Linked DNA regions of Homo sapiens: region 2 is reported to be linked to region 1. Evidence: microRNA targets listed by miRTarBase, many of them from high-throughput screens and not tested one by one. Region 1 holds a microRNA gene; the other region holds the end of a gene's coding sequence.
What was found. Region 1 holds the annotated microRNA hsa-miR-1915-3p (CCCCAGGGCGACGCGGCGGG, at 3,239-3,258, opposite strand). A microRNA usually pairs through its seed, bases 2 to 8, with sites in the 3' UTR of a target mRNA and lowers its output. Matches are read on the target gene's strand: a 7mer-m8 pairs with bases 2 to 8, a 7mer-A1 pairs with bases 2 to 7 and ends in A, and an 8mer does both.

Region 2: miRTarBase lists RGS12 as a target of hsa-miR-1915-3p. The part of its 3' UTR that is shown has no 7-base or 8-base seed match.

The regions. Positions count from the first base shown.
Region 1 is chr10:21,493,338-21,498,697 of GRCh38, forward strand. It overlaps MIR1915 (microRNA 1915), which reads right to left and starts at 3,304; the gene lies at 3,225-3,304. MIR1915HG (MIR1915 host gene) reads right to left here and starts at 3,923. Exons shown (of 2, transcript NR_160800.1): 1 at 3,413-3,923; 2 at 1-2,608. RefSeq lists an enhancer at 1,186-1,979 and silencers at 1,491-1,590, 2,404-2,843, 2,894-2,943, 3,154-3,403.
Region 2 is chr4:3,438,633-3,443,992 of GRCh38, reverse strand. RGS12 (regulator of G protein signaling 12) reads right to left here. Exons shown (of 18, transcript NM_001394154.1): 18 at 4,080-4,538. The coding sequence ends at 4,309. It overlaps HGFAC (HGF activator), which reads right to left and starts at 2,025. Exons shown (of 14, transcript NM_001528.4): 1 at 1,875-2,025; 2 at 1,081-1,261; 3 at 847-943; 4 at 573-652. The coding sequence starts at 1,991. RefSeq lists a silencer at 446-495.

The DNA of each region.
Region 1 (5,360 bases):
CCCTCCCTTCCTCTCTACAATTTAACCAAGCAATTTTTTCTAGGTTCTTTTGTTTTAATATAAGAACAATAAGGCCGGGTGGTTGCTCACGCCTGTAATCCCAGCACCTAGGGAGGCTGAGGTGGGCGGATCACAAGGTCAGGAGTTCGAGACCATCCTGGCTAACATGGTGAAACCCCATCTCTACTAAAAGTAAAAAAAAAAATTAGCTGGTCATGGTGGCGGCTGCCTGTAGTCCCAGCTACTCAGGAGGCTGAGGTAGGAGAATTGCTTGAACCGGGGAGGTGGAGGTTGCAGTTAGCCAAGATGGCGCCACTGTACTCCAGCCTGGACAACAGGGCGAGACTCCATCTCAAAAAAAAAAAAAAAAAAAAAAGAACAATAAAGCTCTTCTGTCTTTCTTCTCTCTTCTTCTCCTCTTTCTATCTCCAGGACCACAAATTTGACTAAAAATAATTGTCCATATGGAATCCTTAATGTATCAACATAGGAAGGAGACACCCACTATCCCAAGACTCAGCCCACCTGGCCTAGATGGGCCTAGATTTAGAGTAAGCATTACAGGCTGATTAAGTTTGGTGCATGGTTTATCGGGTGAGCGTTCCCCACCCCACTTCTTGCAACTTTGCTTGCTCATCTAGGGGTTCCCGGAGGGCCCCCAACACCCCCTAGCAGGGCGCGAGGTAAGTGGAGAGTTTGCCCGGGTGCTGGGTGATGTGCCCAGCAACTTCTGCTTTTTCCCCTGGGGAAAACTGTGACATTCGAAAGGTGTCTGCAAGTGTTTCTTCTGGTTGGCCTGGAAGTTTCCCGAGTCCCTGGACTGGCGACCCAAACTCCTACACTTCCTGCCCGGTGCTGGGAAGAAACCCAGATCAGCAGACAAATCAACCACACCCTGAGCCCCAACATCGAGCTCCAACATGTGCCTTTCCCGCCGAACGAGAAAGCGCGGACCCCTTGCAAGCAGCATATAGCCTCGGCGTGACCCGTGGAGAGGCGGGACCCCAGTGGAGAGAGAAGCACGGAGAAGCCTGGGAAGGAGCTTGGTAAGAGGGGCACAGTCCAGGCTGCCCCATGCGCGCTGGGGTTGTCGCCGCGCCTCCTGCGCGCCCCAGTGCCCCCAGAATCTCCAAGAAAGCAATCGTGAGCGCGGATCAGTTTCTGTCTTTCCCAGAAAGCGGGCTTTTTATTGAGGGGAAACTTAGCTGGGAAAAGTCAGCTCGTACGTTTGTTTTGGTTTTTCGTCTATTTGCTTCCCAATTTAAAAGTGGCCGCCTAGGCGACAGGCCTGCGGTTTTCACAGTGTAAAACGGATCAGAGGGAAAGCTCCAGCCCCTCTCGACTTTCGCTTGCGGTTTGCAACCCCTGGGGTGGGTCTGACCCCGCGCGGCACTTGCCCAGGCGAGCTTCCCTCGTCGCGGCCCGACCCGCGCGCGGACTCGGCTTCCCCAGGTCAGGACCCACTAGGTGGGCCGCTCGGCCCCAAGCCTGGCAGGGCGGAGCCTAGGCCGCGCGCCCCGGGGTTGGAGGTTCCCACGGAGCCGGGAAACTGCGCGCCCCAGGTCCGCAGGCCGCCTCCCTTCCCTCGCGCCCTCGCACCCGCCCTCTGCTCTGCCGCTCCCGGTCCTGGGTGTGCGGGAGTCCCGGGGGTCCCTCTCCTGGACGCAGAGGAGGAATTTGGAGCAAAAGGAAGGGAATTTACTGCGGATGGCACCGGAACCTGAATTGACTTGTGCGTTTCCTGCTCTGGGCACGTAGGTTTCCCCTAGGAATCTGGAGTTCGCTGAGGACACTTAATTCCAAGAGATGATGGGTTCACATAAACATACCATTTAGTTAAGAAAAATATTTAAAATAAAGAAAAAAGAAAAACTGAACTTCGATCTTCTTCTCCACGTTCCCTGGTGTCACCAAATAAACAAAGCATTCGGACGAGAGTGGGCTGCTGGGGGCTCGGGAGGTGCGCGAGACAAGGTTACCCTGCGGGTCCGCCACTGCCCCCGGCCTCCAGCACTGCACTGCCCACGAGTTTGCGGGGTGTGAGCGCCGAAGGAGAACCCCGGACCGCCCAGTCTCAGCCTAAAAACTTGGATCCAAGAGTCCTACGGTTGTGGATGTGCCAGTCCTCCGCGACCCTTTCCTGCTGGCCTTCTGCTTTTTATAAACGAAAATAAAAGTTTGATTTAGGCTTAAAGAAATGTCATTCTGGTCGTTCCTCCCTGAAGCGGGACTTACTCAACCTCATATACTCGCCCGGAATTTTCAATCTCGCCTGTCGAAATCGCTAGCTGCGCATCCGCGGAAGAAGTCCTGGATGAGAGGTAGGGTGAAGGGATCAAGCAGATAGCAGCAGGCATCAGCACACTCCGGCCGTTCCGGACGGTCAGGCCCGCCGCTACAGGGAGAAGTGCGGCGGATGGAGCCAGGGCTGCGGGTTGCGCGCGGGCTGGGAACCCGGTGGTGCCACCTTAAGAGTCGGGTCCGCGCAGCGGCTGCGGAGGCGCCCGGCACCTGCAGGGGGCGCTGCTGCCCCGTGGTTTCTCCCGCGCCGCCGCGTGCAGCGGGCCTGGCAGCTCCGGGGCCCCGGTCCCCGGAGGGGGTGGGGACGCTGGGGGAGGAAGGGAGCGAAGTGCAGCCGTTAGGTAACGAACCCGAACCCTCCCGGATTCAGAAGCGGCCTCAGTGAGGCGTTTGCTGGAGGGAGCTTTCCATCATTCGGCCGCGAGAGGAAACGTGGGGAGGCGCCCTCCCCTGCCCCCACCGCCTGCCTTCCTGCCTCCCTCCACCTCCGCTCCCCGACCCCGACCGTGCTTCCCAGACCCTTTGTTCTCGAGGTTGGGAACGGCTGGGTGGGGGTTCCCCGGGGAAGAGGTCCCCCGCGCCGCTCGGAGGGGAAGGGACTGTCGCCTGCCCCGCACCCCAGCCCTCCCCAGTGCCGTCCCCCTTTCCCCCGGCCCCTTCCATCGCGTCCACGCGCTTCCGTTCTCACTCGGACTCCCCCAACTCCCGAGCTCCGGCTCCCCAGCCTGCACGGTCTGCAAGCCCGCCTCCCTTCCCACTTCCCCGCCACCTCTGAGGTCCCCGGGAAGAGGGGAGGAGAGGGAGACGTGTGGGGGAGGAGAAACCACAGAGCCTTCTCGGCGCGGAGCATTCCCAGGGACCCTTCCAGGCCCCGACCCCTGGGACCCGCTGCAGAGGCAGGGCTTTCCCGGCGCCGCCGCAGGTCGCTAGGGCCGCCCCCGCCGCGTCGCCCTGGGGCCCACGGGTGCACGGCCCGGGCAGCAAGGCAAGGTGCGGCCTCTCAGCGCCAGGACCCGAGACCCCCAGCTGGAGAGAAGGGGACACCGTGGTCCGCGCCCTGGGGAGGCTAATTGCACACGAACGCCCCCCTCTTCCCCGCCCCCCACCGTACCCTCTGCAGCGCCACCCGCGTCGCCTCTCCGCCGTGCGCCACCCTGAGGGCTCCCGCGATTGCATCTTCTTGAGCACAGTTACCAATGCGTTCAGCTTCGTTTCTTACTCGGATGGAGACATCGCGGAGGGAAGCGAGGGGACAGGGATGCGGTAGTAGGGGAAAGGTGGGGCGGGAAACCGAGCAGAGAGGTGGGAGACTTGGCTGAGGCAATGGCACCAGGCAGGGCCGCCCGGAGTCCCGAGTCCAGGTCCGCGAGGCAGGCCCCGGTGCAGCCGCGCCCCGGCCGAACCCTACATGTCCTCTGTACTGTGGACACGAGTCCGCGGAGCGCCAGTCACACCCCCGCACCCCTGCAAGCTCCCGCCGTAGAGGGGGCTCGGCACCATCCTGGTCACAAAGTACGTGCCCCCACCCCCCACCCCCAGGTGAAGAGGACGCAGCCCGGCGCCGTCAGCTCCAGGCTGCCTGGAGCCCCCTCCGGCCTCTCGGCGCGACCCTGGTCCTCAATGGCTCGTCGCGAGCTGCGCTAGCTGCTCTCTCGGCAGCGGGTTCCCCAGGACACACCCAGTCCCCACCCCCCGAGAGCTGGCGGCCAGCTCAGGATGCCAGGCGGCCAGGCGGGCGCCCTGCCAAATTCCGCGTTCCTCTCCAGGAGACGGGGAGTTGCGTCCCAGGCTCGGGAAAGCCCGCAGTTCGGGCTTGGGACTCGCTTACAAAGCCCCCCAAGGCGCCAGGGACGCCTCTGCAGGTTGAATTCCTGCTCCGTATCACTTCAATTTTAATTAATCTTTTAAAACACCGCTGTCACGTCGCTTGCAGAAAATTAATCAAACTTGAATCCTTGTTGCATAGCAAGAATTTCGATCCGAGTCTTTTAAAAAGGACTTGACTTTGCAAAGTCACGTCTTTTACAGTTCCCTCATTCCCCCTTTAGCAAGGGAAATACTGCAAAAGTCAAGACATGTTTGTTTGGTTCTTTCTATCTTCAAAATGAAACTTTGCTTATTTCTGATCTTTATTTTCCTGTCTTTGAACAAAAAAAAATAACGAGATAAATTGCCTACCTCGATTAATTCAAAGTATAATTACTTTGAATGATCTTTGTTTAAGAGCCCAGATAAACTAAGATAATCTTAATTTTAATGTGACACGACCCCTATTTTTCCTTGTGAATAATGAGAATAAAGCAGTCATTAATTAATACCAAGATATCTCCATAGAAGATGGTATCTGTTCTCGCTGAGACACTGAAACATCAGTTGTATTAGTAATTGATACTGTATAATTGAACATGAAGATAGCCGTCTATTTTTAACCTCCAAGCTCAGAGTTTATTTGGTGATTATTGAGCTCCTAATAATTAATTTTTTTCCTTCTTACTGCATAAATAATTCTTACGACTCCCAGTTCCCATGCAATGCAGAGGCTTCTCATTAAAACCTACCCCTCAAAATATAAGATTGTGAAGCTATATTGTGCAGCAACTCCTTCTATTTCATTATTTGTAACATATTTCCTCTATTTCATATCTTCCTGGTGCATTTCCTTTGCTGTGATTTTCCTACTAAATCTATGAGAATATAACTATAACATCTTTTACCATAGCTTTGTCTTTCTGTGATCTCTTGGTTCAGTTTAATACACAATACTTAAGACTTCAATTTTTCAAGTTACTAAAATTTGAGGATGAGTTCCACTGAAGAATCAAAAATACTTGTATAGTGAAGTTGCCATGGATTATATTCCCAACCTAACACACAGTCCACTTTAACTCACACTTTTCTGTTGTTAAAAATAGACTTTGCTCAAACACATTCCCTTTTTCCAACTTGAGTTGAAGAGAGTTCTCACAATTTCCTGGGTTAAATGTACATGCTAACACAACCTTTGACATTAAAAAACAAATTCCCCTCCCGCGTTGGAGAGAAGTCTTCCAAACAGTCAT
Region 2 (5,360 bases), not on the chromosome of region 1:
GGGTCCCTCTGTGACATTCTCTGCTTGCTAAGGCGTCCATCAGGCCCCAGTGAGGGGCTCTGAGAGCAAAGGGGCCCTCTCTACGCCCCTCGGGGTGCAAGGTCCCTGGGAGGGGCACAGACCTCCCCTTCCTCCCAGCGTCCCCCACTCAACACCTGGGCCACTGGCCCAGCTGTGCACGTGGCTTCCTGGAAGCCTGACACCCACACTGTCAGGCAGCAGACCCCTCCCATGTGTCCCAGGACCCATGTGAGCAGGGCGGCTGGCACCGCACCCCACAGACCCTGCCCACCTGTCCCCTGCCTGGGGCACGCCTGTGTGGCTGCAGGGCCCGGCCTCACCACCAGGCGGCGCCTTGGCCCCAGCGATGGCCGCGCAGCCACCATGAGACGCAGGTCCCACCTGGGAGAGGCTCTGGCCCTAAGTGGCACCCACCGGGGTTAATCCCAGAGCTCCTCTTCTGCTCCCCTCCAGCCAGGACCCCTGCCCGGGTCCGCCCCATCCTCCCCTTGGCCCTTCTGGCCTGGCCCAGTGCCCCCTGCCCGCCCCAGGCTACCCAACCCAGCACCCACCTGGGCCCCCTGGAGGCGGGGTGGCCTCCACACAGTAGCCCCAGGCCCTGTCCCGGTCGTAGTTGTGAGTTGTGGCACACCTGGGGGGCGACACCTGCGTGCATGGGGGTCCCAGGCAGAGGCCCCCCACCCCACCCCACCACCCTGGAGGGTCTCTGGGTTCACTGGGTCCGCCTGCTGCGTGGTGAGCGCCTACTGTGTGCCCGGCTCCCAGAAAAGCAGGCAGCGTGGGGCAGGTGACCCCAGCTCGGGTGCCCCGGCTGCCCGGACCCACCACTTCCTGTGTGCACTGCCCTCCGAAGTGCAGGCATGCAGCATGCGGCCCCCGTAGCGGAAGGGGAACCTGCAGGGCCTCCCGTCCTCGGTGAGTGCTGTGGGGAGGGGGTGGCAGGGTCAGGGCTCCCTCGAGGGGCACCCGAGCCCCTCAGGACCTCCAGCCGCAGCCATGCTCCTCCCACCCAGCCCTAAGGTGAAGCACGACACCTCCTCCCAGGCCCACCTGACCCACCTTGGGCCTGGGGGCTACTGCTCGAGGGAACTGCCCTGGGCGGGGGCGGGAGCCCCCCACTTTGGGGTCCCTCTGCCTCTGGAGCACTTGTTGCTGGGGTCTCAGAGGTCACAGAGGTCACCAGGATAGTGGGGATCGCAGGGGTCGCTGTGGCATTAGGTTCTGGGGACTCCGTACGGTTCTAGGAGGAGCAGAAAGGGTGTCAGTGTGGGACAGACCCTCACACTCAGGTCCTGCCGGGCAGGAGGTCACAGCCCTGAGCCTGTTTCCATACTGGGGCCCCCAGATCTCGGAGCAGGTTCCAGGAGGACACACGACATTCCTGAGGCCTCAGCCAGGCCCTGACACCTTCCCCGCCCTCGGCCCCTAGTTAACACCTGCTCAGGGTCACTGCCCAGGCCCAGGCACTGCTACCCACCAAGCTTAAACCCTGACGTCAGTTTTTGGTGATGGGAGCAGCTAGGAGGCCCTGGGAGGTTCCCCCAACCTCACGCATCCAGACCCAACAGAGGTCCAGAGAGAGGGGGCAGCCCCCAGACCCATAGGGGCCCAGGCCAGGCCGCACAGGGATGACAGCCCCCAGGTGGGGCTCCGTGAGCCCAGGCCCCAGCCTCCAAGGCCAGTCCAGCACCCACCTGCCCTGTGAGGGCCAGCTTTCAACGTAAGCCCCCTGCTCGGACCCCCGCCCCCTCAAATCCCCACGCTCTGTGGCGACCCTCCCTCTGGCCTCCTCCCAAGGACCCCAAGTAGCCACTGGGAACCTCTGGTCGCACTGCGACAAGGTCAGTGCTCACCCCGCCAGGCTGGGGCTGGAACCCCCGTGGCAGCAGCAGCAGCAGCAGGAGGAGGAGGAGGAAGGGGCCCAGCCCCGGTGGGGGCCAGGGGCTGGGGACCCAGGCCCAGCGCCCCATGGCTCCTGAGCTGGCCTGAGGGGCAGTGGGAGGCGGGAGCAGAGCGGCCAAGGCAGGTGGGGTCAAGGCTTCGTGGAAATGATTAACCCTGGCTGCCTCCCACGTCAGGCGGGCCCAGCCGGAGAGGAAGTCCCCGAGTCCCCTGGCCCCCACACCTGCTGCCCACCTCACTTTGACCCTACCTGGAAGCCCAGCTGTCTCTCTGGCCTCGGCCTGCACTGGTCCTAGTCCTAGACCTGACATGGTCCTTGGGCCTCAGCTTAGAAGCCTCCTCCAGGAAGTCTTCCAGGATAATGCAGATAGGTTGGGGCCTAGATGGTCTGGCGCCGCTCCCAGTCCCTGCAGGCCACAGAGCTGGCCACCATCTGCCTGTGAATTGTCCATGATGAGAGCCACTACGGGCGCTGGGCCTTGGAGGTGTCCAGCTCTGTGCCCAGCACAGCACAGACAGTAGCAGTGGGGATGGGATTGTCCCTGTCCCACAGACGGCAGCACTGGGGGCTCCTGGAGGGTTCGGTGCTGCATCCTCTCGGTGGCCCCAGGGCTGGCCAAAAGGCCAGGCACAGGGAGGAGAGGGGCCACGCAATGGCTGAGTGTAGCATAGGATGACCTGAGATCCTGCCCCACCTGCCTGTTCTGACTCTGGGGGTGGCCAGGGCCCCCCAGCAGCCCCTGGTGATGTTCAGAGTGTCCCTTCCTCCCCGTCTCCCAGACAGACCCAGGAGTCCACTCCAAGAAGCCTTTCCAACCCCAGCTCCCCACCGCCGCCTGGATGGTACAGGCCAAGTCTGCGGCAGCACAACCCTGGGCCAGGTACCCTGGGGCCTGGGATGGAGCTGGAGTCACGGAATTCGTGACTTGGGGCTGTGGGCAGAGCTGCCTGAGGAACCTCTTCTGCAATATTGGAGCAGCCGCTACGGCACCTCGGGTTCCTCCTGAGTCAGCAGCGACATCCCAGGGCTGCCGAGGTGGGAGGAGGGGTGAGTGAACCACTGTGGCCTGGAGACCAGCGAGGGCTGAAGCTGCCTCCCTGTATCCCCTAAAACCCCTCTCTCTGCCCCCCATTTGCCTGTCTGTGCAGAGGGAGAGAGAATGGACACCCACTGACCACCCAGCTTGACACCGTGGGCCCCAGGGGGCACAGTGCACATGGAGGCGTGGTGGGCCCTGGGGGCACGGTGAATGGGGGGTTGGGGGTTGGGGGGGAGGTCATGGTGGGCCCTGGGGCACGGTGAATGGGGGGTTGGGGGTTGGGGGGGAGGTCATGGTGGGCCCTGGGGGCACGGTGAATGTGGAGGCATGGTGGGTGCTGGGGGCACGGTGAATGGGGGGTTGGGGGTTGGGGGGGAGGTCATGGTGGGCCCTGGGGGCACGGTGAATGTGGAGGCATGGTGGGTGCTGGGAGCAGGATGGATGCGGGCTTGTGGTGGGTGGTACACACAGCTGGCACTGGGCTTCATCTTCCATTCCGACCCCTCCCCCAGCCCCCTTCCTAGAGCACCACTAAGTGGGGTGCATCCACTCCCTGGAAGCTTCTAGAACAGCCCCAGGGGACTGGCTGTGCTCTCGGGCCTCTAGGATGGTCTGAGGAGCTCACCAACCACCCTGTACCGAGGGTACTTGGCTTTAGGGGTTCCATCAAGGCAACCTGGGGAATGGCCCTGCCTCTTCCGACTCAACCCAGCCCCCAAGGCCCCGGCCTCCCCTGCAGCCACACCTGGTTCCCTTTCTGTAATCAGACCCTCCTTAGCCCCAGGGCCTTGGCACAGGCCCAGGGCTCTTTCTAGACTTCCTCTGCCGTCCAGTTGCAGTTTACATGGTCCCTCCCCAGAAAGGCCCTCAGACCACCCTGCTAAACAAGGCTGGGGCAGGGTCCCCACGTGACGGCGAGAGCCAGTCTCTGCCATCTGGTCCTGGCCCTCAGGCCCCAGGAGCCAAGCTTCCCTCTCCTCAAAGCCCCCTTGACCTTACCCTGGGGCACTTCTCCTCCTCAGGCCCCTCTGTTTCCTGCATGACCTCCTGGGGATGTGCTCGGAGTCCCCGAGAACGAGGAGTCTGTGTCCCCAGCACCCAGCACCAGGCCGACGCTTGGGTCCTCAGAAATGCTTTATTGGGCAGCAGGAGGCCAGGGCCAGGGAGCCCCATGGCCAGCATGGCGAATGTCCGGGGCCAGTGCCTCCAGCGAGGTCACCCCCTGCCCTCCTGGCTGGGCTCCTGAGGGTGTGGTGGCCAGGGTGGCCCCCCTGAGGCCCACAGAATCCACCTGGGCTGCCCCACCCCGACATGTCCACAGGAGAGTTGGCCAGGCCAGGGCAGCTCAGACGAAGGTGGCGTGGTGAGCGCTGGTCTTGGGCTTAGCAGGCTCACCCGGGACGGGGCCCAAGCCAGGGAGGTCTGATGTAGGAGGCCCACCACTGGCCTGCGACCTCCCAGGGCCAGCCTGTGCCCCCGCTATGCCACCATCCCGCCCGGGCGCCGAGCCAGTTACAAGATCCACATCGATGATTCTGTTGACTGGGAGGTCTCGGCTGCCATGGGTCCCACTTCCTGTCACAAGGAGAAGAGAAGCTGTCACTTGCCTGGCCCGGCCCTGGGCCCCCGGAACCCACCCCCTACCCCGAAGGCCCCTGCACAGACAGCATGGTAGGGGTCCCTGAAATATCCCAAACACATCCCAGAGGCAGCTGGCGTCCCGCTGTGGGCCTCCAGGCTGGGGCAGGTACGCCCAGGGGAGGTGCAGTGTTCCCAGAGCCCTCCACATAACACCTGCCACCAAGTGGGGGAGCCGACCCACTCAGAAACCCTACCACCCTGCTTCCCCACTGCAGCTCAGGAACAGAGCTGGGCCCCCGGCAGAGCCCCCGCCCCAACTGCCCCCCTAATTCCTCCTGGGGGCGTCCTCAGGGGCCCCCCCAGGCCCAGGGCCCATCCTCAAGGGCCACCCCCAGGGGGCTGAGCACTAGGGTTCAGTTCCAGATAGGCTGGACCCTCTTGGCCTGGTGGAACGGGCCCTGAGCCCTGTGTCTGCTGCCCCATCCCACCCTGCCAGGCTGGCCACCTGCTCGCCCACCTGCCTCGCTGCCTCAGCACCGTCTTCACCGTACACACCCTGCTCTGGGCCTCCCGGTCGTGTCCCCTCCCCCTCCATCCCTGGCCCCCCTACTGAGGCCCCTCTTTCCGGCTGGTCAGTGACTCTTGCCCCACTTCTGGCTCCAATGCCCACTCCAGCCCCAGGAGATCCCGGCTGCCTGAACCGGCCTTGGAAGCTTCTAGACCCAACATGGGCAGGCCATCTCCTTGCCAGCACCCCCGGGAGGCCTCCCTACCCAGGGCGTCACTGCCCTGCCACATCTGGTGACCTCCACGTGG